Homo sapiens: one gene and its partners. Each later gene encodes a partner of the first gene's protein in a complex. Links are inferred from orthologs where the notes say so. Each region holds a gene or a part of one and is shown on either strand. Other genes may lie near its edges.

What was found.
Region 2: CTNNA1 (region 1) and CTNND1 share a complex: the UniProt entries of both Homo sapiens proteins name them as parts of the cadherin:catenin adhesion complex.
Region 3: the proteins of CTNNA1 (region 1) and CTNNB1 are in contact, whole or in part, in a crystal structure (PDB 1DOW), measured with the Mus musculus proteins. The link is inferred for Homo sapiens from one-to-one orthologs. Residues at the interface, in NP_033948.1 of Mus musculus: Ala58, Leu61, Ala62, Ser64, Val65, Gln67, Ala68, Thr69, Asn71, Phe72, Lys75, Gly76, Lys78, Ile79, Glu82, Met104, Ala108, Phe111, Pro115, Cys116, Arg121, Met124, Ala128, Leu131, Leu132, Val135, Leu138, Leu139, Ala142, Asp143; in NP_001159374.1 of Mus musculus: His118, Thr120, Asn121, Val122, Gln123, Arg124, Leu125, Pro128, Ser129, Met131, Leu132, Lys133, Ala135, Val136, Asn138, Leu139, Ile140, Tyr142, Glu147, Leu148.
Region 4: CTNNA1 (region 1) and CDH26 share a complex: the UniProt entries of both Homo sapiens proteins name them as parts of the cadherin:catenin adhesion complex.

The regions. Positions count from the first base shown.
Region 1 is NC_000005.10:138,924,405-138,931,427, reverse strand, and holds part of CTNNA1 (catenin alpha-1), read right to left. Parts: intron 6,919-7,023; coding exon 6,718-6,918; intron 6,173-6,717; coding exon 6,021-6,172; intron 2,183-6,020; coding exon 2,072-2,182; intron 956-2,071; coding exon 774-955; intron 599-773; coding exon 493-598; intron 1-492. UniProt on the Homo sapiens protein: Associates with the cytoplasmic domain of a variety of cadherins. The association of catenins to cadherins produces a complex which is linked to the actin filament network, and which seems to be of primary importance for cadherins cell-adhesion properties.
Region 2 is NC_000011.10:57,764,802-57,771,824, reverse strand, and holds part of CTNND1 (catenin delta-1), read right to left. Parts: intron 1-7,023. UniProt on the Homo sapiens protein: Key regulator of cell-cell adhesion that associates with and regulates the cell adhesion properties of both C-, E- and N-cadherins, being critical for their surface stability.
Region 3 is NC_000003.12:41,195,522-41,202,519, reverse strand, and holds the start of CTNNB1 (catenin beta-1), read right to left. Parts: upstream 3,016-6,998; 5' UTR 2,850-3,015; intron 2,799-2,849; exon of another isoform or gene 2,713-2,798; intron 2,378-2,712; exon of another isoform or gene 2,139-2,377; intron 2,130-2,138; exon of another isoform or gene 132-2,129; intron 1-131. UniProt on the Homo sapiens protein: Key downstream component of the canonical Wnt signaling pathway.
Region 4 is NC_000020.11:59,953,688-59,961,442, forward strand, and holds the start of CDH26 (cadherin-like protein 26 isoform a precursor), read left to right. Parts: upstream 1-4,735; 5' UTR 4,736-5,039; coding exon 5,040-5,108; intron 5,109-7,755. UniProt on the Homo sapiens protein: Cadherins are calcium-dependent cell adhesion proteins. They preferentially interact with themselves in a homophilic manner in connecting cells; cadherins may thus contribute to the sorting of heterogeneous cell types.

The DNA of each region.
Region 1 (7,023 bases):
GTAACTGAGAAAGAGCTTCTCTTGATCAGGCTTAAAACACCAAATGAAATGTATTGTACAATTTCCAGGCGGTAGGAACCGTATTTTTGTACCTATCAGTGTGAGGGAATAGGGGGATGAAGACGGGGTGGCTGAGAAACACAGTGCTGAGGATGAAGAAACCTGGGCCCATCTAGGCACACCAGCCTTCCACAGCACTGGCCACATGGCTTCTGGCTGCTCTCGGCCCCTGCCCAGAGGGGGAGAGAGGGAACTGAGACATAAGAGACAATAGCAGAGGTTAATTTTGGCTACCAAGCGATGGAAGATTCCAGGACATACACATCCGCTCTAGAGAATCCTTACAAATCTATGCTGGGATTAATAAGAACCATTTTTAGAGATGAGTGGCAAAAGTGCTGTGGCCCATGAAACTTACCCTGAATGGACCAGGCTGGGCTGCCTGAGCCCCAGGAGGAGCTTGGAGACCCACCTGGCAAGTCTGTCACTTACATGGTCTGCAATGGTGCGGCCAAGCTTGTCCATCCTGGATCCTGCCTCAGCAATTTTCTTGGCAGCACTGATGACATCCGATGTATTTTTGAGTGGTCCTTTACCTCTGAGAAGAGGGAAGAGAACAAGGATTATTGTATGTGAAGCCCCTCACAGTTGGAGTAGAAAAAGAAGATTGTCCACAAAGCCCCATGGCCTGGGCTGTCTGAGCCGCTGCGCAGGTGACCTGTGGGGAAGAAAGTAGCCCCTGTGCAGCCTGGTGGGGCCGGGGTGCTGCTCACCGGGTAAAGTCTGTCATCTCCATCATAATCATGCACATCTGCTTGGCCAGCACAATGATGTCATTGCCACTGTCGTCCCATTTGGACACTTCAGCATCCAGCTTGCTCTTTTCTTCCTGGAAGCTGGCCACCTGTTCCGCAATCTTCGCTTTTTGCTCCTGGGGAAGCTGAGCCATGATCGCCTGTGATCAGAAGCACAAAGAGCTCTTACATAAAAAGAATATGAAGTTCTCAGAGTGCATTAGCCAAGAATATTTCCAACAGGCAATCTGTGGCATAGGTAGGATAATGCTTTAATAGGTTTCATTTCGCCTGAAGGGCTATTTCTCTCATTTTTTGCAGAAACTTATGGCAGCCTGAATTTCCGACCCACTTTTGAGCACAAGTTTTAGTGTGGAAGGAAACAGCGAGGGGTGGAAGGCTAATGTGGAAGCTTTGGAATCACACCTGTGCAGGGACAGAACCTGCTTAATTCTTATTAATATAAGACAAGAAATGAGAGAAGGGGTTGATGAAAGTGTGGAGCCCTTTCCCTGGTGGGCCCTGATGGACATTTCCAACTATTCAAGATGAACTGAAAGTGGCTTTAGAATGTACACCTGAAGAAAGAGGGCTGAGAGATACCGCTGGCACTCAGGCCATACTTGAGCAACACCTGGAGGCCTGCTGCCCACCTCCAGCCCACAGACCTACGGCTGGGGAGCTCCTCCCTCTCAGCTTCCCTAAGTGCTCATGACTGAGCAGGACATAAGGCAGGGATGTGCTCGCTGTTCACGACAGATTTCCAAGGAGTGAAATCAAAGACTCCTTAGAAATATTTCTTGGCATCCTCCCCAAAACATAAATGCTATTGATTGAAGATTTAATGACTCAAATGAATGCAATGGCTCTGACTGGCTTTCTTGAATGTACCACTGTTATTTTTTAAACCCATGAATAATTAAATAGTTCATACCCATAGTATCGAGATGGACAAAGGCAGCAATCTTTTTCAAATTTCACGATCCTTTCAACAAACACTGCATTGACTAAATCTTAGCCCTTCCCTGACCCAGGGCTCTATCATAAACTAAAGCTCAGGGCACTGCAGAGGAGGCCCAGGACCTGGTCTGCCTCTAGCTGAGGAGGCTACATTTGACTAGCAGGTGCCACAACTTAGTTTAACTTCAGTCTACTGCCAGAGAGACAGAGAGAGAGAAACGGTGTTCTGAATACTGAGGGTGTTTTCCTGGAAACAAGAAAGGGGACAGGGAAAGTCGGCAGCACAAGCTGAACTGCCCCACGGAGCGCTTCCTTACCCGGGCACTCTGGCCAGCTATCAGCTGATCGTCTTCTGTCTGGACGCTCGTCCTGCTTCTGACATCAAAATCTTCTGTCTCAAAGTCAGAGTCATCCAACTCCTCAGGGGTCTGCCACCCAGACAAAGATCACAGGTCAGACACATCTCTGGGCCACCAGCCCCCAGCCACCCTGAGCCTCTTGGCCAGGTGCACGGAGGCCCAGAATTCTGGATTTTAATGTGCAGTGTTCTGAACAGTATGGTGAATAAAGTCAAAATCACTCAGCATTTGTCTCGAGCCTCTGCTTCACTGGTGCACACGCTGGGCTGCCTGGCCCACAGCAGGCCTGGGCTGGTTTCACTGTGTGTGGGGCTCAATTGCTATCACTGAGTCAATTCACTATTTCTTTGTAAGACATGATTGTTTTTTTTTTTCCTTTGAGACAGAGTCTCGCTCTGTCACCCAGGCTGGAGTGCAGTGGCGTGATCTTGGAATCAATGCAACCTCCGCCTCCCGGGTTCAAGAGATTCACCTGCCTCAGCCTCCCAAGTGGCTGGGATTAGAGGCAACATGCCACCATGCCCGGCTAATTTTTGTATTTTTAGTAGAGACGGGGTTTCACCATGTTGGTCAGGCTGGTCTTGAACTCCTGACCTCAGGTGATCTGCCTGCCCTGGCCTCCCAAAGTGCTGAGATTACAGGCGTGAGCCACTTGTGCCCAGTGACATAAGGTTTTTACTTCCTAATTTACTTCCCCAACACCGGCATTTTAAGACAAAGATGAGAACTGTCCTGGGTAGAAAAGGTACTGACTTAAAAATAGAGGTGTTTTGTATAGTATTAAGCGGATTTGTATAACTTTCCTACTTTATGACAAAAAGAAAATTAAATAACTGGGCCTTCTGTTAGGGTACCAAGGCTGCTTGGAGGAGTAAAAATAGGCAATGTATTTTAAAGTATTCTTTTGACTTTCATCAAAAGAAAAGAGGGGAGAATATGGCAGGTGAGGGCTGAGTAAATACCCAAGGGACTGATTACTGGTCCTAGCTCTTTGCTTTAATTATGAAATAAAATTCTTATTTTGTACCAACTACCAGCCTCTCATGATTAGCTACTGACTTGAAACATAATGTTGTCCTCTGGCAGTTATCAGTAAGGGGGCAGCAGGCAGAACAGCTGGGGTTGGCGCTCAGCCCAGCCGGCTGGCCTGTGACAGGAGGGCAGTGAGGCGAGTCTCTCGTCTGTGTACCAGGACATAGTCCAAGCCCAGCCCAAGGACTTGCAGTGAGGTTCAAACAAGAAGATATGCAAGAAACATTCTGGAACCACCAAGAACGTGCTGTGCAAAGGCTGGGCCTGTCCCTTGATGAGGTGAGAACAGTGGACGCTCACGCAGGGGACCAGACAGCATGTCGGTGTGAGGTCCTGGAGGCCGATGGACTCGGTGGCACAAAACACAATGCCAGCACTGACAGTTTTAACGCTGCAGTCACACATGCCTTCGGGACTGGCATGCAATCAATCAGTTAAGGGGCTTTTCAAAGGACCACCTCCTAACATCATCTCTACCTCCCCAGCACCCCATCGCAGACCCAAGAACCGTTCTTGCCAAGAAAACCGAGTACTCTCATTCATTCATTCATTCATTCATTCATTCATTCATTATCTCTCTGCCAAGCACTGTTCTGGGCCCTAAAGATACAAAGTGACAAACAGACAAAAATTCCTCTCGCATATTCTAATGGAAGAAATGACAACAAAGTAAGCAAATGAATTATATGACACATCAAAAGTGACCAGTGCTATGAAGAAAGCAGTGATGAATAAAGGGAGATTTTAATTCTATATGGGTGTTTGGAAAAGTCTCACGAGAAGGTGCTCTCAAGGAGGGGGAAGGGGGGGCGGGTGGCAGCATAGAGGCCGTGGGGAAGGGGCATTGGCCCAGGGAACTGCGTGAATAGCAAGGAGGCCACAGAAGGGGGGCTTAGCTCACTGCCCCCATGTCACCGGCTTGCCTGGAACCCCATGAGTACAAGAGGAGATCAGCAGGAAATAAGGTTGGAGAAGTGACAGGTTCCAGTCCCAGAAGGCCTCGTAGGCCAGCATAAAGAATGAGTGACGTGGCGGCCTGTGGAGACGCTGGCACAGAGGATAACATGATCTGATTGAAGCTTACAGAAATCGCTCTGGCTGCCCTGTGGCTCATGAGACTGTAGGCACCCAGGATGGGAACAGGGAACCAGCTGAGTGGCACCTGCATGAACCCGGGTGAGAGGTGCTGGTGGCTTAGACGAGGGTGAGAACATGTTCAGGTTCTCTACTGTGAACGGAGAGCCAAAAGAATTCACAGATAAAGCAGATGTGAGGTATGGGACAAAAGGGAAATAAAAGATTCGAGGTCTGGGCCCGAGCAAGGGAAGACGGAGTCACTATCAACTAACATGTGCTGCCTGGGTGGAGCAAGTGAGAGGGAGGAGGCAAGGTGCGCAGACAGGTGTGGAACTTAGGAGAGTCGGCCTCTAGACAGGACTCTGAAGAGGTCAAGGACTTCCCAGCAGGCCACACCCGTGTTTCACAGGCTGAGGAGATGGGGAGAAACCAGCCAAGGAGACTGAGAAGGGGTGTGGGTCAAGAGACTTTTTTTTTCCCCCTAAAAATGGGAGAAATCATCATAGGCTTGGGGAAAGGTACAGGAGGCAGGGGGTGAAGAAGCTGGGATCCTAGTACAAAGACGTGCAAGGGATGGCCTTGGCCAGAAGCACCGAGAGCAATGCCCATGGTGCTAGGAGGAAGGTAGAGCACACAGACATGGGATGCAGAGGGGTGGACGCACTAACTGCCTCAGTATCCTCAACGAAATCGGCAAGTGGGCCAAACAGGACAGGGGCACAGGTGTGGGTGGGTGGGTGGACGCCTGTTGCAGGGCAGCAAGGGCGCACAAATGGCCGCGGCTTCTGCGGCTCCATCAGCGTGGCTGTGGCCATCTGCACTGTGCTCAGGAGAGCAGGATCTTGCCAGGACTGCACCTTGCAAGGCAGGTGTGAGGAAACAGCAGGGCAGAGGAGTGAGTATATTCAACTATGGACTCAAAGCTAACAAAGGACTGAACCAAGGACACAAGGGGCTGAGTGACACATGGGGAGGACCAACTGACTGAAGACCCCACAGTAGACTCAAAGGCTCGCTGGGAGTTGCAGGACTCGAGGGCGCAACCTGAACAATAGATCTAGGCTGCTGGGGATGACAAAGACAATGGCAGGCAGTGACAAAAGCTGAGGTACAGCTATGGCCGTGAGGTTGAGGTGGAGGAGGACAAGACATCAAGAAACTGAGAGGCCCAGGGGCTGGATGATTCTTGAATGAAGACAGGAATAGTTGTCAGAGAGCAGGACGGTATGCCGGGAGCTCAATCACAGATGCCATAGAGGCCCCTTTCTCCTCTGCCCCTGCGACAGAGGCCCTCCAGGCACTCTGGCTATGGGGAAAGGGGCTCGGCACTTGGCCATGAGCCTAGGAGCATCACCTGGGGCCGCTCCTCCCCCCAACACCCTGGGGTTCCATCATCCCGTCTGCCTGCAGCCCCTCCGAAGAGAGGGGCACTTCATGTGAACAATAACTTGAATCCGCATTATGAAAATACTTCCTTCTCTGATACTAGCTTGAGAACCATTATTTTCTATAATTTCCTGCCTAACTCAAACTGAAGCCTCATGTTGTAGAGACTGTTTATCCTAAATTAAATCGTCAACTCAGGCTAGCTCCCCTTCTTGGCCCAAGTTTGGGCTCTAACTTGCAACTAACAGTCATTTTAGACAACGTAATTAAATATATCTCATTCTAACAGCTTTTAGATTCATGGTTTTAATATACTGCCACCGCATCTGCCGAGTTCTAGAATGACGCATTGCTCAAGTTTAGCAAATGATAAGAAAGAAGCTGTTAAGACGTCTGAAATGCAGTTACTCACCCTTATCATCAGCACTGCTTTCCTGATGTCCCGGATGCCATCATATACCAGGCGGGAAGCATCGATAAACTCATTCTCATCCATGGGCTGGGCAGGGTCCGAGCTGAGGGCTTCCACGGCTGCTTCTACTTGCTCAGTAAAACGTGGCATGACTGTGGAGAAAGAGGCACAGTAGATACCCTGGTCAGCAGGCAGCATCATTCCCCTGGCCCTCCCTGAATCACTCAGCTAGACAGAAAGAGGTGAGGCTTATGATGAGCCTCTGCTTCTACCTGTGTGAAGGGTATTTACAGTTGAAATAAATTAAATGCAGTATTTTACGACTCAAATCATCTTTTTCTCTGCAACAGAGATTGGATGGTTGAGAACTTGAAGTGAGACTAACTTGAAGCCTTGCTTAAGAATGGGACCTACCTTAATTTAGTCTTTACTCACTAATAGGAGATTTAACTCAGAAATTCATCTTAAATCGTGTGTTTAGAATTAGTCCCGTGATTACTCATGAGATACAGATGAAGAAAATATGCTTGTGAGGCCTGAATTTGGCTATGACCAGCTTCTCAGGAGCCCGATGTGCCATGAGACCAAATCTGAGTTCCCAACTCCTCCTTCCTCACCACAGGGCTGGGCTAATGGGGTGGCCTGCCTCACTGAGGCTGCGGTGTGTGCGAGCACTGGAAAGGGAGAGTTCCCGTACCTGTGTTGGAGAGCAGCTTAGTGGCTTCCAGAACCTTCTCTGTGTAGACTCCTGGCTCATAGTTGTCCATCTCTGAGGTGACTACGTGAATGACCCGGGCTGCCCGGCCTCGAATTGCACCAGCTGTGCGGTCCAGGCCATCCACATCCTTCTCTTGGAGAGCAATGACACATTTGTTCACATCTTCCAAAATGTGATTCTCTGGAGAACAAGCAAAAAGTTGAATGAGGAAGGAGGCTTTCTATGAAAAGGTGGCAACTGTAAGCTGGCATCTATCATTTATTGTTTGCTTGGTGCCAGCCACAG
Region 2 (7,023 bases), on another chromosome or scaffold:
TATGCAAATTATCTGCTAACTATACTTTCATGGAGATTCCACAATGGGAGAAATATGGAGGTTGGGTCAGGTGCTACCTCAAGTTACAAGAAAGACACAAAAATTCGGTAACAGCCGTTGTCTCTGGGGTTTGAAGTGGAGATAATTTTTCTTTGTACAATATAGTATACAACAAGACCCTACATTATTCCCCTTCCCCCAAAATACATTCCCATTGGTCCTCTCTGGACAGGTCTCTTACTTCTCCTTCCCTCCCCTCAATCTCTTTTGTTCATTGGCAATAACCAGCCTCAGGGCCTTTGCACTTCCTACTCCTCATATCTACATGACTCCATCCTCCATTTCTCTTGGTCTCTCTCAAACATACCTTACACATGAGACCCTCCCTGACCACTCTATATAAAATAACCTCACCCCCACCCTGAGACGTTCTTTCCTCCATACTACTCATTCTACTTTACTTTTTTCTCAATAATATTACCACACTCTGACATACTACATATTTACTCGCTTATTATTTGTCTCTCACAACTAGAATGTAAGCTCTTTGAGAACAAACAGTAGGTCTATTTTGTTTATTGTTGTACTTCAGTGTATGGCATAAACAGACTCTCAAATTTCTTTTGAATGGAGATGTTTTACTTCCTTCTTCAATGAATACAAAAAGTTAAATTTTAGAAAAAAAAAACAACTTTCTTTTCTTTTTCTATACTTTTTTTTTTCCAACTGTGATCTTAGTTAGGCCTATGAAGAGGCCTAGGTAGTCTTACCTGCCTATTTGGCTGACCTTCAGCACGGTAGACATCCAAGAGGCCAACTGTGCCCCAGTTAACAAAGTAGTCAATAGAGAGCAGAACAGCAATGAGGTTACAGAACTTCCCCCATTCCAACAAAGCAGGAAATAAATCAGATTGGCACCAATTTCTCTTTTAAAATAGGCTATTTTAAAAGTGTACTGAATATACACCAGCTACTTTATTTCAATGAGATTTACTTCACTTGCAATGAAATGGGAACTGCAGGTGCTTTGATAAAGGTATTGAGAAGTTGACCTAGTTTCTATAACAATGTCTTATGTCCTCAACCATGAGAATATATTTTAGTTTCTTAAAATATGAGCTTCCTAAAACAAAAATCTTTTCTTTTCTTTTTTTTTATTTTTTTATTTTTTTTGAGATGGAGTCTCACTCTCTCGCCAGGCTAGAGTGCAGTGGCGCGATTTCGGCTCATTGCAACCTCTGCCTCCTGGGTTCAAGGGATTCTTCTGCCTCAGCCTCCTGAGGAGCTGGGACTACAGGCATGTGCCACCACGCCCAGCTAATTTTTGAAATTTTAGTAGACACAGGGTTTCACCACGTTGGCCAGGATGGTCTCAATCTCTTGACCTCGTGATCCGCCTGCCTCGGCCTCCCAAAGTGCTAGGATTACAGGTGTGAGCCACCGAGCCCAACCGTGTAACAAAAATCTTTCTTTTTTTTTTTTATTTTTTATTTTTGAGACGGAGTCTCACTCTGTTGCCCAGGCTGGAGTGCAGTGGTGCGATCTCCACTCGCCGCAACCTCCACCTCACAGATTCAAGCAATTCTCCTGCCTCAGCTTCCCGAGTAGCTGGGATTACAGGCGCCCGCCACCACGCCCGGCTAATTTTTGTATTTTTAGTAGAGACAGGGTTTCACCATTTTGGCCAGGCTGGTCTCAAACTCCTGACCTCAGGTGAACCACCTGCCTTCGGCCTCCCAAAGTGCTGGGATTACAGGCATGAACCACCACCGCGCCCAGCCACAAAAATCTTTTCACTCCACAAAGATACCTCCTAATGTGCTACTGCACTACAACATAGAACAACATAGAAAGCATAAATAAAACAGATGATTTACTCCGGAGAAAGTAATTTTTTTTTTGCTCAACTGTCAACTAAACCAAAATGAGTAATTAATCAAGAAATGCAGATGAAATCTAAAAATCAAAGATAAAACCAATCTGAATCACTAGAAGAGATCAGTCTTCTTGGATTACAATTGTATGCCTAAACTAGATCTAACTGAAATGAAGTGGTATCCTAACAGTTGTACCTTTAGCACATGGGTACAAGAAACAGAAATACGTCTTTATGTTAACTGTTAGTGAGGCAAAGCAACGCCCATGAAGACCTAAGGGAAAACCTAAAGGGAAAAAAAGGAAACCCAACCTAAAAGAAAAAAAAGATAGGGGAGGCAAGAGGAGGCAAAGAGAGACAAAGGAAGACACCACAGAGAACAGGAAAGCAAAAGAAAAGGAGAAAATACAGGAGAATTGGTAGAAGAAATTATAGGTAAAATAAATGTGAGGAACTGAATGTGGGAGGCTACAGAGTGCCAAAAGAAATTAGCTTAAATAGCCAGGCAAGGTGGTGTGTGCCTGTAGTCCCAGCTACTCCAGGGGCTGAAGTAGGAGAATCACTTGAGCCCAGGAGTTGGAGACAGGGCAACATACCAAGACTCTGTCTCTCTGTTTTTTTTTTTTTGAGACGGAGTCTCGCCCTGTCGCCCAGGCTGGGGTGCAATGACATGATATCGGCTCACTGCAACCTCCACCTCCCGGGTCCCGGGTTCAAGCGATTCTCCTGCCTCAGCCTCCCGAGTAGCTCAGATTACAGGCATGCACCACCATGCCCAGCTAATTTTTTTTTTTTTGTATCTTTAGTAGAGACAGGTTTTCACCATGTTGGCCAGGCTGGTCTCAAACTCCTGACCTCAAGTGATGCGCCTGCCTCAGCCTCCCAAAGTGCTGGGATTACAGGTGTGAGCCACCGCGCCCAGCCTCTGTCTCATTTTTAAAATAAAAATGTAAAAAAAAAAAATTATTCAAAGAAATTGGCTTAAGTACTATTTAGAACACTAGTTTCATGGGTTCTTAAGTATGAAGAAAAGGGAGGAAAAGAGAAGGAAAATTCCTAGGCTGGAATAAACCCGCAAGTTTCTAGGCAAGGTTGTATCTAACACATATGTATTTCCCACAGACCACAGCTTGGCTTTTCCACATATAAAAGCTGACTCCTTTCTTAGAAGCACACTTCTCACAGGAAGCATTCATGAACTCATGTCAGTTTTATAAATGTCCACAAATAAGGGTTGCAAATACAGAATGATGTCTGGCTGGGCTTGGTGGCTCACGCCTGTAATCCCAGCACTTTGGGAGGTCGAGGTGGGCGGATCACGAGGTCAGGAGATCAAGATCATCCTGGCTAACACAGTGAAACCCCGTCTCTACTAAAAATACAAAAAATTAGCCAGGCGTGGTGGCGGGCGCCTGTAGTCCCAGCTACTCGGGAGGCTGAGGCAGGAGAATGGCGTGAACCCGGGAGGCAGAGCTTGCAGTGAGCCGAGATCGCGCCACTGCACTCCAGCCTGGGCGACAGAGCAAGACTCTGTCTAAAAAAAAAAAAAAAAAAAAAAAAAAGGATGATGTCCACAAATCATACAAATCATTCTGTTTATCTTCCTCCCACTGACACTTCACTTTACTAAAGTTATCCATTCTCATACTACCGTTGTTTTGAACCTCACCCACACAACTCTCCAATATTACCTATTACTAATTTTTTCCCATTAAAAAAATTTAAAAGTTAGCTTTACCCACTCAGGAAGCCCATATATTCTGTAATGCAAGCACCTACATCTACCACAGATTCTCAGGTTTTAAGAGACCTTCGGACGGGCATGGTGGCTCACGCCTGTAATCCCAGCACTTTGGAAGGCCGAGGTGGGTGGATCATTTGAGGTCAGGAGTTCGAGACCAGCCTGGCCAATATGGTGAAACCCCCTCCTCTACTAAAAATACAAAAATCAGCCGGGCGTGGTGGCGGGCACCTGTAGTCCCAGCTACTCGGGAGGCTGAGGCAGGAGAATTGCTTGAACCCGGGAGGCAGAGGTTGCAGCAAGCAAAGATTGCACTACTACACTCTAGCCTGGGAGACAGAGCAAGACTCCGTCTCAAAAAAAAAAAAAAAGACCTTCAAGGGCATTAGTTCAACAAACGAAATTTGAGTTCTTTGAAGCATCCATTCTAATAGCAAACACAAGACATTACTAGGAGCTCTGCATTACTCTATAAAGTTCACATACATTAAATAACTTAAGTGTCACAACAATCTATAAGATGGTTAATATTATCCCCATTTTACAGACAAGGAGGCCAAGGCAGAGAGAGATTAAGCAATTTGCCCTAGGTTACATGTTTCCTCCGTGGCAGTCTAGCTCCCCATCCATACTCTTAATCATTATGTTATGCTGCCTTGCCTCACCATATTATGGAAGTCTCAGATTGGAAATTCCCTTTTTGGTTAGCATATTTACCAAAAAATATAGAATAAAGCATTTGTGGCAACATGTTAACAAATGATACCTAGGCAAATGAAGAGTATACCAGTTACTGTGCTAGAGCAACTTTCCTGCAAGTTTGAAATAAAAAGTTGAGAAGTGCTTTTGTCATCACATCACATCAACCAACCTGGGACATGTTTTGTGAAAGTCATGACCAAATTACCTACTGCTGACCAGCAAGGAAGGCTTTAAGATAAAATTCTGGCCGGGCGCAGTGGCTCAAGACTGTAATCTGGGAGGCCAAGGCAGGCGGATCATGAAGTCAGGAGTTTGAGACCAACCTGGCAAAAATGGTAAAACCCATCCCTACTAAATATACAAAAAATTAGCAGGGCGTGGTGGCGCGCACCTGTAGTCCCAGCTACTTGGGAGGCTGAGGCAGGAGAATCGCTTGAAACCGGGAGGCGGAGGTTGCAGTGAGCTGAGATCGTGCCACTGCACTCCAGCCTGGACAACAGAGCAAGACTCCATCTCAAAAAAAAAAAAAAAGATAAGAAAATTCTTTGCCTCTTTATAATTCCCCCACTATATGCCTGATCTAAATTGTCCACACCACACCAATCAAACTGAAGGGCTCACTGGAGAAGAAGTGGCCCTAAAAACAGGGAACACGATCCCTGAATAAAGTGGTAAATTCAGGCCCCATTCTCAATGCTTAATATTTAATAATAACATGCAATTCCAAGTAGAATTAGGGAAAAAAATTACTTCCGAAAAATACATTAAACAATTAAATACAAATCAATCCATACCCTAATTTCCCCCTCATTAGTTCTAACCAGAACAGTTGTTCTTGCCTTCTTACAATCTCCCTGCCAGGCTACATCAATGCTCTATTGGAAACCTTGGAGGCAGCTGCATAATTTAGGCAGAGCAATCCCTACTTCAGCTTTGTGTGTCATTTAACCCTTCTTTGAGGGAAGAGAACATGAAAGAATATTTGTACTTATTCACATCCTTATTACCTACAGTTCACTCCTGTAGGCAAGTTCCTTGTTAATACCTTTTAAATTACCCAAGAAAACTAATTTCGGTTCTTAAACTCATAAGCTTCCCAATACATGAACAAAATCTAAAGTTTTGTGGCTAAAACAGTGATTTAAAAAATACACTGATATCCAAACATACTTTCTTTGAAACACTGATGTTCAAAACTATCATCCCAAGCTCTTAACGTTTTTATTAACAAGCACAGAAACCATTCACCTCCAACCAGGGCTGAAAGCAGTACTTTTCTGCTGATGTCTTAATATACTCTCCCCTAGAAAATGGCAACATTTAAGGTTTTCAGTGTTGAAGTTCATTATGAAATGAACGGACTAGGATACTTATTATTTATTTATTTATTATTATTATTTTTTGAGATAGGATCTGGCTCTGCAAGCCCAGTCTGGAGGGCAGTGGCATGATCTCGGCTTGCTGCAACCAGTAGCTAGGACTACGGGTACATGCCACCACGCCCAGCTAATTTTTGTATTTTTTGTAAAGAGGAGTCTTCACCATGTTGCCCAGCGATCCACCCACCTGGACCTCCCAAACTGCCGGGATCACAGGCGTGAGCCACCGCACCAGGCCAGATCCTTACTTTTTATACTATTCTTTGTACCACTTGCCAAGAAAGGAACAGGATTAAAGAAAAGCTAAAATTTTAAATCCTCCATTATCTCTAGAAACTTTGCTTAAAAATATAAGGGAGGGCCAGGTGTGGTGGGGCACACCTATAATCCCAGCACTTTAGGAGGCCGAGGTAGGAGGATGGCTTGAGCCCAGGTGTTTGAGACCAGCCTGGACTACATAGAGAGACCCCATCTCCACAAAAATACACAAAAATTAGCCAAGCATAGTGGTGTGCACCCATAGTCCTAGCTACTCAGAAGACTGAGGTGGGAGCACCACTTGAGCCCAGGAGTTTGAGGCTGCAGTGAGCCATGATTTCACCACTGCACTCCAGCCTGGATGACAAGAGCAAGACCCTGTCTCAAAAAAAAAAAAAAAAAAAAAAATTAAGGGAGGAGACGCATAAAAGGTTAAAACTACAGACTACAGTAAAAGTTGCAAAAGTACATTGCAATTTGATTAATCTATGTTGTTTTGCTTCCTTTCAAGCCTTCCCCACAAATCAGTCCCTCACTGATTCTCATCAAATGCCTTATTTAACCAAGGCTTACTGAGCACCTCAGTATGTACCAAACACTAAGACAGGTGCTAAAAAGATACAGAGATAAGACAGTACCTACACCCAAGCTGCTCATAGTCTAGAGGGAAAGACAAGAATATCTGAACTACCTCCTACAAGCCTGTCCCTGCAAGTTGATGATATCCTATCATTCCAAACCACATACCTAACAAATTCTCTGGAAGAAGAAATTTTACTGATAAACAACGTGTGACACAATTCCAGGAAGTTTAAGAAATTAGGACAGCAATGGTGGGCATATGGATATGGAAAGATTCTCGTTCTAAAGATTAAAATAATATCCATTCTAGCACATCCAGCTCCCCATGGGCTCTATGGAAAATAGATCTTTTGCATACATTATCCCAACAAGGGTAGTGGGGAGTTGGAGGGAGTTGGAAATTTAAGTGAGTACTGCCCCTGTGCCAAGATGAAACACTCCTGCCTCTAGCAAGGGCTCGTTTTAGTTCGAGCTGTTGTTTCCAT
Region 3 (6,998 bases), on another chromosome or scaffold:
CAGTCAAGCAGTTTCAACAATAGATACCACAGTTCCAATAAAAAGAGGGCTACAAGAAAACTAAGTTAACACATATTTTCAAAAACAATGTCACAAATCAACATGACACACTACAAAAGAGTTGCAAATACCTTTTGTTAGAAGTTTGTCCAGTTCTAAAAGCCTTCATCCTTTGTGCCCCGGGTTGGCAGTCAAGCATGCTTCCGACTAAGCTCAAAGTACAAACTTAAAACTTACCACCTACTCATCTACAATTATTGATTATCAGAAGCTAGGAAACCACAAGAGAAATAAAAATAATCTTGTAACAGGACAGATGTATTATTTCATTTCAATAACACTGAAGTTTCATTTGGCTAAATATACTTCTATAGTCTATTGCAGGAGATTTAATTTCACTGCTACTTATAACTACAAAATAATTATATTCAAACTTTTAATTCTCTACATCCCTAGTTTCAACAATACTTAGCATGCGCCTCTCCCCACCTCACCCTATAACAAAAACGAGTATCTGCAATAGTTTTGCTAACACATTTCAAAATACCCTTGGAGAAACTTGCCTCCTCGTTTTCTATCTTGGTGGTGGTGTTATTAAAACAAGCATACAGACCCTCATTTATGCCAATTTTTATTCCAGTCATTAACAGGAACAGTAAGCTCAGTCTGATAAATTTTAATACTGGAAATACACTTTTCTATATCATGTTGGTAAAAGAAATAATCAGATAACAGTTTAAAAAACCCCTCTTCCATACTCTGAAACCTGAACACTGTTAAATGCTTCATTTTTTTTTAATTAGCCACCTTATTTTTTTTTAAGTTGGTTTTTCCTGAAAACTTTTAAATGACTGTTCTGGTCTGTGGGAGACTCAGGACTCCACAGGACTCTAAAGTTACATGCTATACTAAGCTTTCTAGCACAGGTTTTTTATTTTTCCCCACCCCCAGGACTTCAAACTTGAATAGTCTCAGCATTCCTTTAATCCTACAGAATAGACTTCTGAAAGTTTTTCAAGTTACTGTTGCAATAATCTCAGGGCCTTGTCCTTGTACACGGCCTTCAGAACAAAGGTTAGGTCAAAGTAATGAATATTGGGCGCAAATTAACCAAATTTTGTCTGGTGTGAAAGGACATCCTCAAACCTTTAAGGGTACTTTTTTTTTAATCAGAGATTTTTCAAAGATTTAAATATAAAAGTAAAATAAATTCCGCACAGCCTTAGTTCAAACGAAAAGCCTCCAAAGTAGAAATTTATGTCAATAATTTAAGCAGAGAATAAACCAGCAGTATAACATAAATAACACTTGAGACTATATTTACTATTTCTTAGGATGAATACAAGTCAACACGAAGACATCTGAAGGTATTGAATGTTCGTTCACCAAGTGACAAATACTGAAATGGCTTCCTAAATTCCAGACAAACTACAACTTAGCGATCTGAAAAACATTAGCCTAGACTTTATGAAAGGAAATGCTGCCGTCTCTTCAAGTTGATGTCTAGCCTAAGCCACCATTATTCATGATACAAAGCTCTCATTTCACTAAAACCACTCCTCGATTTCCTTTTGCCGACCTCTGCATACCAGCAGCCTAGTCTTTCTTCATTCACCACTCACAAACTCGAGGGGTGGGGGGAAGACCACAGATGTCTGGAAGATACAAAGTAGGAGACAACGCTCCCTCCAAAAGGGAAGAGAACGAAGGCAACAACTACATACACCCAACTGCCAAAGCTTTCAAGCTTGGCAGATTCAGAAGCAGGCTATAGGAACTTAACTTCGAAAAGTCTCGGTTCAAAGTCCTCTCTCCAGACAAAACACTGAAAGAAGTTGCAATGCTTGAATTCCATTTGGCCAGCTTTGGAGCGAAGGAAAAATTCACTCCGCTGAAAAGAAAACGTGCTCTATAATTCAATTTTAGCTGCCATCAAACTATTTGAATAAATTTAAATTATTTCTACGAACAAAATTCTCGAAGCGGTCTGAGTCAGAGGCTGAATCCTGCAGTTCACTTGGTAAGAAACAGTAAGCCATCACCTTCGCCTTCCTCCACCCCCTTATTTCACCAGGGTCTCATACCCACTACCATAAATCCATAAGACTCCCAGTACATTATCCACTGCTTTCACTCACCTGCATAGTACGCTAAAATACAGGTGCAAGACATGGATTTTTTATGTGCTCACCCTACTGACGCATCGCACCCGCTGCACTTAGAGTTTAGTTGCTCTAAGGTTTAAAGTTGCTTCGATTCAAACTCACATAGCCAGGGCATTAAAAAAAATAATAACACTTCTATTCTTAAGAATGAAAGAGGAAATCTTAAGAGAAAGTCCACTGGTCCGATCCCCAGGACTGATGGGACTTAGGGTGGCGTCTCTGCCTCAGCGCCCGAACCCCAACTCGCCGCAAGAGCTGAGAAGGCGGAGCCCCCCGTCCCCACCCCGCCCCCCACCCAGGGCCCGGCGCATCCCGAGGCACCGGGTCCCTCCCCCAAACTCGGCCAAGGCCAGAGCCCCGGACGGAAACCACAGACCCCCACCCCCACCCCCACCCCGCCTGCCATCCGGGCTCCTGTACGCGCCCCCGCGGCGCCCCCTCCCCGCAAGCGATGCCCCCAGGGCCCCAGAGAGGCAGCGCGACCGGAACCCGGGCCCGGCCGCCGCCCTCCGCGCCCCGGGCGCGGCCCACCCTCACCGTCCCCCACCTGAGCTCCCCGCTCCCAACCCCAGGCCTCCCGGCTGCGCCCAGCCCGCCGCCCGGACCGCGCGCCTGCTACGAAGTTTGGCTCCGAGAGGAAGCGGGAGCAGCCCCGGAAGGATAAGGAAAGGAGCGCCCAAGCACCTCAGGGGAACAGGCTCCTCCCGCCGCGGGAGTCCGACCGTCCTCGACCTGCGGTGGCGGCTCGGCGGGGACTGAAGCTGCTCCTCAGACCTTCCTCCGTCTCCGCCTCCCCTCGCTCTCCGCTCCCGGGGCCGGGCCAACGCTGCTGCCACAGACCGAGAGGCTTAAAATGGCGCCGCACAAGGAGCTCTTATAAGTCGCGCAGAAGCCGCTGTATCCTGCCGCCACCGGCGCAGCGCGGAGCGTTCCGCCGCGCGAGGACAAGGGGCGGGGCGCGAGGGGGCGGTGGAAAGTAGTCCCCGCGCCGCCCAGCAGTCTGCTGCCGTCTGAGCGCCCCGGGCCGGGGTGGGGTGCCTGGGCACCCCACGGACGCTCCCCGGGGTGACGGCTGGCGGCTGCCCGCTGCGCGGCCTGAGGGCAGCCCGTGAGGGCGCTGTGGTCTGCATCGGGGAGGCCGGGCCCCCGCGGCCTGGGTTGGGGAAGGTGGCCCTGGTATCCTCCCCTGTCCCAAGCCCGACGCCCCCGCCCCGCGCGTTTCCCGAACCGGGAGAGCAGCTGCAGGACTCGGCGCGCCTTTCCCGCGGCCTGCGGAAGGTGGCATCTCGGCCCCGGCCTTCGAGTACCGCTCGGGGCGGCCGGGACAGGTCCTGGGAGGGCGGAAGTTCGGGGCCAGGGCGGCGGCAGGGGCTCGGGTTCAGCGCCCGCCCGTCTTGGGGCGCTCCTGGCCCCGCAGCTGCCCCGTCGCTGGTCTGCGGGTTCCCGGCCGGGCGCGGGTTAGGGGGCCTCGCCGACCTTGTGGTCTGTGCCGCACACTCCCTGCTGGACCTGGGTCGCAGCCCAGTCTCACAGCACCCCCAAAGCCCCCCACTGTCCGGATGGTGGATCCCACCTCTCAGCAGGCTGTTCAGCTTGAATTTCGACCTGAATCACCGGGCCGAGCCGCCTTCTGTCCCCACTCACGAAGGCTGTGAACTCTCCGTAGAACGGGCGCCAAGCCCGCAATTCAACAAGTCCTTAGGAGTACCTACTGTGAACAAATAACTAATGGAAATGGATTAGCTCCAGAGCGCTGTCAATTAGGTTAATTCTTATAGATTCCATTTTTATCTGGTTCCACTTGTCACTAGGTATCAATAGATTTATTTGTGGGGATTTTTCTTTGGAGAAGAAGATTTTTACGGTATTACTTATTTGTGAAATCCAAGTATGTTTATAGAGAAAGCTATCGATTAAGCAGCCTCCAATTTTTTAACTAATTTTCTATTTAAAAACGTTTGTAATTCATTTCAATAGACTGAAAAATGTTTCCCATTCTAATGCAGCAAAATTGACGTTTGTCGAAGCTGCAACAAGTATGATCGATTCAGTTTCTCTAGGCTATTGTTTGTGCTTATTTTTCCTCCAAAACATTGGAGAGAGTACAAAAAGCAGCAGTGAAAGTTACCTCTGTGCTTTTATCCCAGGACTACAATTAATACAAGCAAACAATAGGTCTTAACACATAGATGCAGGCGGAAAACCCACTTATTCATTCACTCATGGAGGTAGGATATGTAGTTTAAGGCACAGCTCATGTTTCAGGGCCAGCGTATTCTTTAAATAACTTTTATTTTTGTCTTAAAGATATTTTACTATATAAGTGGTAATGCCAACTGCCGTCTGTCACCATAGCACATGTGGGCCACTGCAGTGGAAAAAGTCTACACACTAAGATGATGTTCAGTGAGATCCATTGTCTAGAAAGACCTTCTCATTTGTATCTTTCCTACTAATTCTGTAGAATCTAAGTGTAGCTATTGGTTGTGGTCACAATTCAAAAAGATTGAACCGAAAAAGGTATTTCATCAAAACCGTGTTTCTAATATAAACTCAAAAGTATAAATGGCGTTTTCAGGTACTGATTCCTAATTTTAATTGTCATTTGCAGAATTAAGGAATATGCAATTGATTAAAGTCATACATTGAAAATCAGACGACAGATTAACCACTTTTACAGGGCTTTTTTTAAAAAAACATGTTTGCTTTTTCTATGTGCAGGTTTTTTGTTTTTGAATAAGGCACTCTTGAAATTGGTTAAGAAATATCTGCACCATTAGAAGATCTAAAGGATAAAAACGTTTCTATATTTGTATTTCTCTGTTCCATTACCAAAATAATGGAATCATTTTTCTATAATTTAAATACTTTAAATTTAGAATTATGATTTTTAATCCCTACTGACACCGTAAACAAATACATTTTATTAAAGAAAATGTAAAATTTGCAACAATGCAGCATGCTGTTTTTCCCATCATATTAAGTGTACTGAAGAATTACTGGTTGACTAGCATTAAACCAAGTTAGTTAAATTTAACATTGCTCCTAATTTTTATTTGCATGTTTCATAAAGCAGAAATTGTTCTAGTTGTCTCACCAAAAATAAGAGATGAATAACTTCTGTGAAATGAAGACAAACACTATCATTAAATCAAAGAAAAATACATTATCAAGATACATGAGTTTGGTAAAATAAGTAATTTTGTTAAATAATTTTTTTGAATTGACCTTGGACAATACATTTCATAAAAACAGTTGGTTATCTGTTTTATGTCTTTTCCTTCTAGAGCCAGTCACCCCGGGTTTGACATAAATTAATTTTATAAAATGGCGACAGACAAGTGGTTCTAATTTTTAGGCTGTGTTCTTAGAAACAAAAGTGTCTCCAGCTAGTTTAAAAGAGAAGATATTTCTTTTCACGCTATCAGGCCACTGGCATATAAAGCAGTGGTAGACTGAACCTGAATGTAAGGCATCCCTTCGCTAAAACAGAGGCTTTTGATTACCTTTAAGAGAGGAAAAAAAAAAAAAAAAGCCAAGATTATTTCACACTTCAGACAGAAATATGAATCACAGAAATATGCCAGTATTGTAAAGAAGGTTCGTTCACTTTTAGGATACTTAACTCTATCAAATCCATTAATTAAACATTTATTGAGCATCTAAGACAATGAGCTTCCCTTAGAGAGAGGGAAACGGATGACTGGCTCCATTTGATTAAGTCTCTTAAATTAATGTAAAATTGTAACTGTTAATCCACCCTATTTAAAAAGAAGCAGAAACGGTAGAAAAAAAGCTGTGAAAGTAGGGTGTGGTCTCACTTGGACTCTACATCCGAATCCCCTCGGAAGGCTCCCTTCCCAGCAGAAAGGTAAGAATAATATTCCATGCATTTAAAAACAAACAATCCCAACTCTCCAAGAAGGCTTGTTAAAAATATTTCTTAGGACAATGTAAAAACACTGGACAACAATCAGGATCAGCTTTTCATTTAGCAGTTCATCAGGTGGGCTATTTATGGATTGGGACTTTTGATTTGTAATACATCATCTCAGGGTTCAGTGTTATCTTTTGATTTCTTTCCAGCTGAACAGGCTAAGTAGTTGTAAATACCTCTTGTCAGACTACATGGTTGGCTATTCTCGCACACAGAAGTAATCTAGGAACCCACTGGGCAAGTTCGGCGGAAAGCCACTGTGGAAAGCTTGCAGCTGATGTATACTGCAGAGCGAGGGAGGGGCGGTGAAGGTGGCGGGAGGCAATGGCCATGGTGGTTGCTATGGCCTGGTCACTTCAGTTATGTCAGGAACACCCTACATGCTTGGAGTTATGTGTACTCGAGGCCTTCATTGGTTTGCCAGACTAAGGAAGTACATTTTAATGGCTACCATACAAAGTATGAAGGAGAAGCAATGGAGTCATCGTCCATGATATTCAAAGAACATAAAGGTATATATGTTTCTCAATGTTTCTAAGAACTCAGACAAGTACCGCTGCATTTCTAAGAAATCATGTTTCGGAGACACACACCCGCAACACACGCACGTGCACACACACACACACCCCATTAAAAATTTCAAAATGGTTGCAGATATTTCATTCACAAGAAGGTTAAAGGCGTTTCCCATCGCAAGAAGGATTAACTTACCGGAGGATTCTGGGACTGCAGATGTATACTGCGGCAAAATCCTAAATTCATCGAAAAAATCATTTCTGGACTCCAGCTGCTAAAAATAATAGAATTATAGTAAATCATGGATAAGATTAAAACAAGCCATTTTCACCTTCCAAAGTATTCAGAAAAAAAAATGATTCTTTTCTTTTAAGTCATTT
Region 4 (7,755 bases), on another chromosome or scaffold:
CTCAAAAAAAAAAAAAAAAAATCAAACATATACGAAAGTGGAAAGAGCTTCACAGTGAATACCCGCATGCTTACTCTCATAACCAGACAGTTGCCACCTGGCTGTGTCTACTCTGTCCATCCGTCTAGCCACCTAGCAGTCCCAGCTGTGGCCTATTCCAGGCATCAGTATCCTTCCAGCTTCTGCCTGCCATGCTCACCCTCCAGGGCCTCCACTGTGGGTAGCTGTTTTATACTATATATATATATATATATATATATATATATATATATATATATATATATATATATATATAGAGAGAGAGAGAGAGAGAGAGAGAGAGAGAGAGAGAGAGAGAGAGAGAGAGAGAGAGAAAGAGACAGAGTTTCACTCTTGTTGCCCAGGATGGAGTGCGATGGCTTGATTTCGGCTCACTGCAACCTCCACCTCAGCGATTCTCCTGCCTCAGCCTCCCAAGTAGCTGGCCATGTGTCACCACACCTGGCTAATTTTTTTGTATTTTTAGTAGAGACAGGGGTTCACCATGTTGGCCAGGCTGGTCTCAAACTCCTGACCTCAGGTGATCCACCTGCCTCAGCCTCCCAAAGTGCTGGGATTATAGACATGAGCCACTGCGCCCAGCCCTGTTTTATATTATGTTAATAGCTGCTATGTCTATGGCAGAGTTGAACCTACTTCACCACTACTGGAAGCAGAACTCTTCCCTGATTATTTTAAAAACCCTTCTCAAGAGTGTTCTGAGAAATTAAACTTTTCTTGTGACTATGAAGAAACGGGAATTGAATTCAGAAGTATTGGCTGGAAAATTATTTTTGTGTTAGTGAATATAGAAAGGTCTTGACTCAGGGGACATATAAGCATGAGCCATTTTATTCTTCCTTAATCTGAGCCTTCAACCAAACCATTTCAATCCCTCAGTTACAACTGGGGCTCATCATTACCCAGTCACGTCAGTCAGTAAAACCAGCCCAGCTTAAAACTTCGATGTCAGCCTTGATGGAAATCTAATCTCTTCCATCCACCCTGGGTGGGCTGGACTCCCAGGTGGGTGTGTGGGCAGGGGAGGCTTGGGCAGCCCCTCCTCACCTTCCAACCCAGCACTGAGATCCTAAGGCATGGTGGTGCTTTGCTGTTGGGACACCTCTGCTCCCTCCCTCTTCCAGGCTCTGCCTCCCCTAGCGTTGGTGACAGAAAGAGAGACTAAGGGAAAGCCTAAGGCCTGTCCTCTGTAACAGGCCACTCTCCCAGCCTTTCACTGCGGCTGGCTCACCTCTGCAGAGGAGGCATCGAATGCCAGCCTTCTCACCTCCCCAGCCAGGAAAGAAGGCTTGAGCCTAGCGCTTTACTTCTCTGGTGTTTACTTGATCCATATGGAAAATGCCAAAGGTAGGCAGAGTCAGGTGCATTTGTCATCTTCCCTCAGTCCCACTGTCCACCTAAGTTCCCCTCCTTTCAGCTGGGCATGAGGCCTGGCCAGCCAGACCACTGTCCACGCAGAAATCCAAGCCGGGTGGGGATGCCTCATGATGCAATCATCATTACTAAAAAAAGAACAGTGAGAACTGGAGGTGGCTGGGGGCACTCCTCAAAAACATGAGAAGGTTGACCCTGGGTAGGTAATTGTAGCTCATACCTCCCTTGCAATCAAGTAACTTTTATCTCATGAGCAATCTCATTTCTTCACTTGTCAGCTTACAGGGAGCTGGGAGCTGCCACCATGTGGCTATAAAGTATTACTGTACTTCCAAGGACACAGAAAGGAGCGCTAGACTATTGTCACTATGATCACATGCTCAGAATAGAAAGGGAGTGGGGACATCTTCAAGCTCAGGCTCACCCAAGATGTGCAGCAGGTGATGCCCAGAATCACCAGCTGAGTTCCAGGCCCCGTGGCCTACCCAAGTAGGGTTGCCGTGTGGGGAACTGGCATTCTGCTTAGTTATTTTAAACGCTTGAGAATGTTGAAAACTTGTTTGTTTCTAATATATTAAAATACCAGTTCCTATGGTGTTTTTTGTTTTGTTTTGTTTTGAGATGGAGTTTCACTCTTGTTGCCTAAGGCTGGAGTGCAATGATGTGATCTCAGCTCACTGCAACCTCCGCCTCCCGGGTTCAAGGGATTCCCCTGCCTCAGCCTCCGGAGTAGTTGGGATTACAGGTGTGTGCCACCATGCCCGGCTAATTTTAAAATACCAATTTCTTTTAAACTTAAAACGAATGTGAAAGTGGAATCCTTCACTGTTGTCCCCCAGCTCCGCCCAGACTAGAACATTGTGAGGCTAATGCCTTTCTAGCAACAATATTTTAGTCCCCAGCGCTATTCTAGCAGCAGGGAGTGCTCAACTGACGTGGTTTTTTCACATATATTTAACATGGTTTAGCTCACCTGACTTATATATTCTAAATTAGTGATTCTAACTTAATCAGTTTTTTAAAAATAGGCTATCATTATAGAAATATCCACTTTGAAAATAGGCACAAGGTATTCAGTTTCTCTTTATGCACAGGAAATATCTATAGACTTTAAAGTTGTATTTATTATTCTTTTCAATAATAAGCTATTAATTTCAATAAAAATAAACTATTCAAATTAAAATATTCAGCAGCATCTCAGAGCTATGAATGTTCAGTTAAGCAAAGAAAGTTTTTTTTTTTTAATTGGGAGATTTTTATTTTATATTTTATTTTTGATGAGTTCTTTTTTATTTTTATTTTTTAATTTTATTTTTCCATAAGTTATTGGGGTACAGGTGGCATATTGGTTACATGAGTAAGTTTTTCAGTGGAGATTTGTGAGATCCTGGTGCACCCATCACCCAAGCAGTATACACTGCACCATATTTGTTGTCTTTTATCCCTCACCCTCTTCCCACTCTTCCCCCCAATTCCCCAAAGTCCATTGTATGATTCTTATGCCTTTGTGTCCTCATAGCTTAGCTCCCACAAATCAGTGAGAATATACAATGTTTGATTTTCCATTCCTGAGTTACTTCATTTAGAATAATAGTCTCCAATCTCATCCAGGTCACTGCAAATGCTGTTAATTCATTCCTTTTTATGGCTGAGTAGTATTCCATCATATATATCTGTATATACACATATATATACATATATATGTGTATATATATGTGTATGTATATATATACATATATGTGTGTATATATGTGTATGTATATATATACATATATGTGTGTATATATGTATGTATATATGTGTATATATGTACATACACATATATACACATATATGTGTATATATACATATATGCGTGTATATATGTACATACACATATATACACACATATATGTGTATATATGTACATACACATATATACACGCATATATGTGTATATATACATATAGATACGCATATACACATTTTCTTTATCCACTAGTTGATTGATGGGCATTTGGGTTGGTTCCACGATTTTGCAATTGTGAATTTTGCTGCTATAAACGTGCATGTGCAAGTATCTTTTTCGAATAATGACTTCTTTTCCTCTGGGAAGATACCCAGTAGTGGGATTGCTGGATCAAATGGTAGTTCTACTTTTGTTCTTTAAGGAATCTCCACACTGTTTTCCATAGCAGCTGTACTATGTTATATTCCCCCCAGCAGTGTAGAAGTGTTCCCTGATTGTCACATCCACACCAACGTCTACTGTTTTTTGATTTTTTGATTATGGTCATTCTTGCAGGAGTAAGGTGGTATCGCACTGCGGTTTTGATTTGCGTTTTGCTGATCATTGGTGATGTTGAGCATTTTTTCATATGCTTGTTGACCATTTGTATATCTTCTTTTGAGAATTGTCTATTCATGTCCTTATCCCACTTTTTGATGGGATTGTTTTTTTCTTACTGATTTGTTGGAGTTCATTGTGGATTCTGGATATTAATCCTTTGTCAGATGTATAGATTGTGAAGATTTTCTCCCACTCTGTGGGTTGTCTGTTTACTCTGCTGACTGTTCCTTTTGCAGTGCAAAAGCTCTTTAGTTTAATTAGGTCCCAGCTATTTATCTTTGATTTTATTGCATTTGCTTTTTGGTTCTTGGTCATGAAATCCTTGCCTAAGCCAATATCTAGAACAAGCAAAGAAAGTTTACCTTTTATTTTATCTGTTTACTACTTTAAACAAGGTAATGTGATAAAAAGGTCATGTTAAGGTAATCAGGGTTAATGTATCACAGATTGTGTTTTAAAACTTGCTTACTGCAACCTTAAGTATTGGTATAATATAATCTCAAATTGTCTCTTTCAGAATTCTCATGCAAAGACTCCCGGGTTGCCACAGAGATCCCTGTCCATAGGGAGGCTCTTTCCCATCTCTCCTCCCTCCCACTTTAATTCCAAACTCAAAAAGGCAGATTAATCTAAGCTTAAAAAAGGTTTTAGTAGAAATAATTTGAAAACCCCAGAGCCCTGGGATATTGTTGGAATAACGATTTTTAGTGCTTTGGAAAGTAAAAGTTGATTTTTCTTTTCTTTCATTCTTCCCCATCCCTTCCCCCTTAATAAAGTTATCATTCTTGTCATTTTCTAGTTTTTTTTGTTTGGTTCAAGAGGATAAGATTATAGAAAATAGTCACTAACATATCCTGCTATAGAAAGAGATGATTGGACCTTCTATTTGGAAACCAGAACAAACAAGGAAACAAAGAAACAAATAATTCTGCTTTCCGATAGGTGCTGGTTTTACTTCCGCTGGCTGAGCTGTTGTTCCTGAGGTCAGACCCCAGCCAGTCTTTTGTGTACGTGCAGGACCATGGTGGCTTTAGTTTCTACCCCACCCTTCCTAGGAACTCTACTTGTGGCAAACGTATGTTCAAGCTTACAAGTCAGCCCACCCCACTCTGATAAATGCAAGAAAAGCTGAAAAGGGAGGAGCAAGATGGGATGAAAGCATCTGGGCCAAAGTGACCTGAAAACCTTTAGAGAAGAAGCTGCTGGCTGAGAAGGAGGTGTGTGGCTCCGGTGAGACCACCAGCTTGGAGGACTGGTCATCAGCTGCACGTTCTGGGTCTGTCTTGGGTATTCCCATATGGCCATGAGATCCGGGAGGCACCCCTCGCTGCTGCTGCTTCTAGTGCTGCTGCTGTGGCTGCTGCAGGTAAGCTGAGCCTGCAGCCTAGTGCTCAGGTGCAGGGAACTGAAAGCAAAGCACAAGCTGGCCCTGCCCCTTCTAGGCTAAGGGAGGGGAGAGGGACTGAGTGTGACCTGCTGGGACCCAGGGCTGGCTGTCTTGAGAATGGCTTAGGTAGCAGGGGCTCTGGATTTATATAAAGGGAAGTTAAGGGTCCCAGTCTGTTTGGGGCAACAGTGGGAGCAGGCTAAGGGACCTGTTTAAAACTAATTTATATAGTTCACACTATTTTTAGTGAGATTACATCAACACACACGTGTTTTCTTTCTTTGTTTCTTTCTCCTTTTGTTGAGACAGGGTCTGGCTTCATCATCCAGGCTGGAGTGCAGTGGCATGATCAAGGCTCACTGCAGCTTTAACCTCCCAGGCTCAGGTGATCCTTCCACCTCAGCCTCAAGAGTAGCTGGGACTACAGTAACTTACCACCACGCTGGCTAATTTCTGTATTTTTTATAGAGATGGATTTTCACCATGTTGCCCAGGCTGGTCTCGAACTCCTAAGCTCAAGTGATTTATTCGCCTTGCCCTTCCGAAGTGTTGGGTTTACAGGCATGAGCCACCTCACCCAGCCAACACACACAATTTTTTTTTTTTTTTGAGACAGGGTCTCGTCATCCAGGCTACAGTGCGTGGTGACATCTCAGTGCACCGCAACCTCCTCCTACTGGGTTCAAGCAACCTCCTGGCTCAGCCTCCCGAGTACTGGGACTACAGGTGCACGCCACCATGCCCGGCTAGTTTTTGTATTTTTATTAGAGACAGGGTTTCACCATGTTGGCCAGGCTGGTCTCAAACTCCTGACCTCAAGTGATCTGCCTGCCTCAGCCTCCCAAAGTGTTAGGATGACAGGCTTGAGACACTGCGCCCTGCCAAGTTTTATAATGATACTTCTGTTCACACTTTACATAAGATTGAGGAAATCTCAGTTGTCTGGATCCAAGGCAATTTGAGCAAACCCATGGGGATGGAATGGCTAAATCCATTGCCCCCAACTGCCACTGTTTAAATGGGAATACAAACTAGTGGAGTCAGGATTCGAAACACATGGGCTTGCTCTGTTTGTACTTAGAGTGGACAGAGGTAATGTTGCATGCGCTTGTTGGTTATGATCTGCTTCGTTGGCTTTCTGTAGGTAGGGAGAGGGAATCATTTCTTCCTTTGAATACCAGCTGAGGGTGGGAAGCAGCCCAGTGGCTGGTAACTGTGAGCTCTGGACTGGGCTGCTTGGCGTCCTGACCTAGGCTCCTTCACAGCCCGCTGGGGACCTAGGCCAGCTTAACTTTGTTCCTTACCTTGGATCAAGTTGAACTTACCTAGGGAGCTTCAAGGGATCTCAGTGCCTGGGTTTTGCCCCCAAAGGTTCAGGTTGAGCTGACCTGGGAGTGCACTGGGTGTCAGTGCACTGGTTTTAACATAACCTTGTTAAGCCTATTTTTCTTCACCTGAAAATGGAGCTAGTAACTGAATTTATCTGAGCCAGTGGTTGTACCAGTGAATGAGGAAATGCGTAAAAGCCCTTGGTACTGCGAAAGTTGTCAGAATCAGAATGGAGTTCCTTATGTTAAAACACACACACACACACACACACACACAGGCACAAAGCCTGATATATAGACACAAAGAAGGTTATGAAAAGGGGGTTCTCACATTTGTAGGCTTGATAACTAAAACTATCACAAAAGCTCTGCAAAAATAACAACTTTGCACAAAGGCCGTTAAAACCTTACACAAAAAATACTTTTTCGAAGAAATCTTCCCAGCAACTTTTTGTGCAAACTCAGACCAGTGTCACCCTTCTTATTGATCTTTGTAGCCAAAGATAATTATTTCAAAACAATGATATAATCCTTCTCATTTTTTCCTTTGAAAACCTTTATCTCCCTTTACCTCCCTGACTCTGCACATCGTTTACCATGGCACACATATTCCCATGGATATGTCCTTGCCCAGACAAACGTCATCTTCTCTTAGAGAGCCTCTGTCTACTATTAGGTTCACAGTTCAGTAACGACCCAGCCGTTTTTCTAATCACAGTGAAAATGGTTGGCAATATTCATTCAGAGCTCATGCTAAAACTATTTACTGGATACCTGCTTTGGGCCAGGCACTGGGAATACACCAATAAACATAATAGGGGGAAAACCCTGTCTGAAAGTGGATAACTTGTTTGGTACCAGTTGCTTGAGGTTTGGAGAATTTTCTTGGTCACATTTTGCCATATCAAGAGTTACGAGTTTCCTTAGTCAGACAGCACATTAATTTGATCTCCAATACTTCACAGAAGTCCTTTTTAGTAGCCCATGTTTGCATGGATTTGAATATAGTCCAGATCAAATCCTGTCCCCATCCTTCCCTCACTCCTGCTCCTACCCACAATGAGTCTGATCAGGAAACAGACCTGAATTCTCTTCCCTCTGGCGTATTAGTGCAGTGCCAAAGCAAATTAATTGACTTCTGAGGGTGGTTGGGTGGGGGTGGGCAGTGGGAATGGGTCTGTGGATTGTACTTCAGTGATTGATGACAGCAGCTTTATGTAGATTCCAGGGAATCAAGACAGATGAAGAGAACATGATTCAATAGATGTAAGAAGTTTTTAGCAATCAGAATGCTGGAC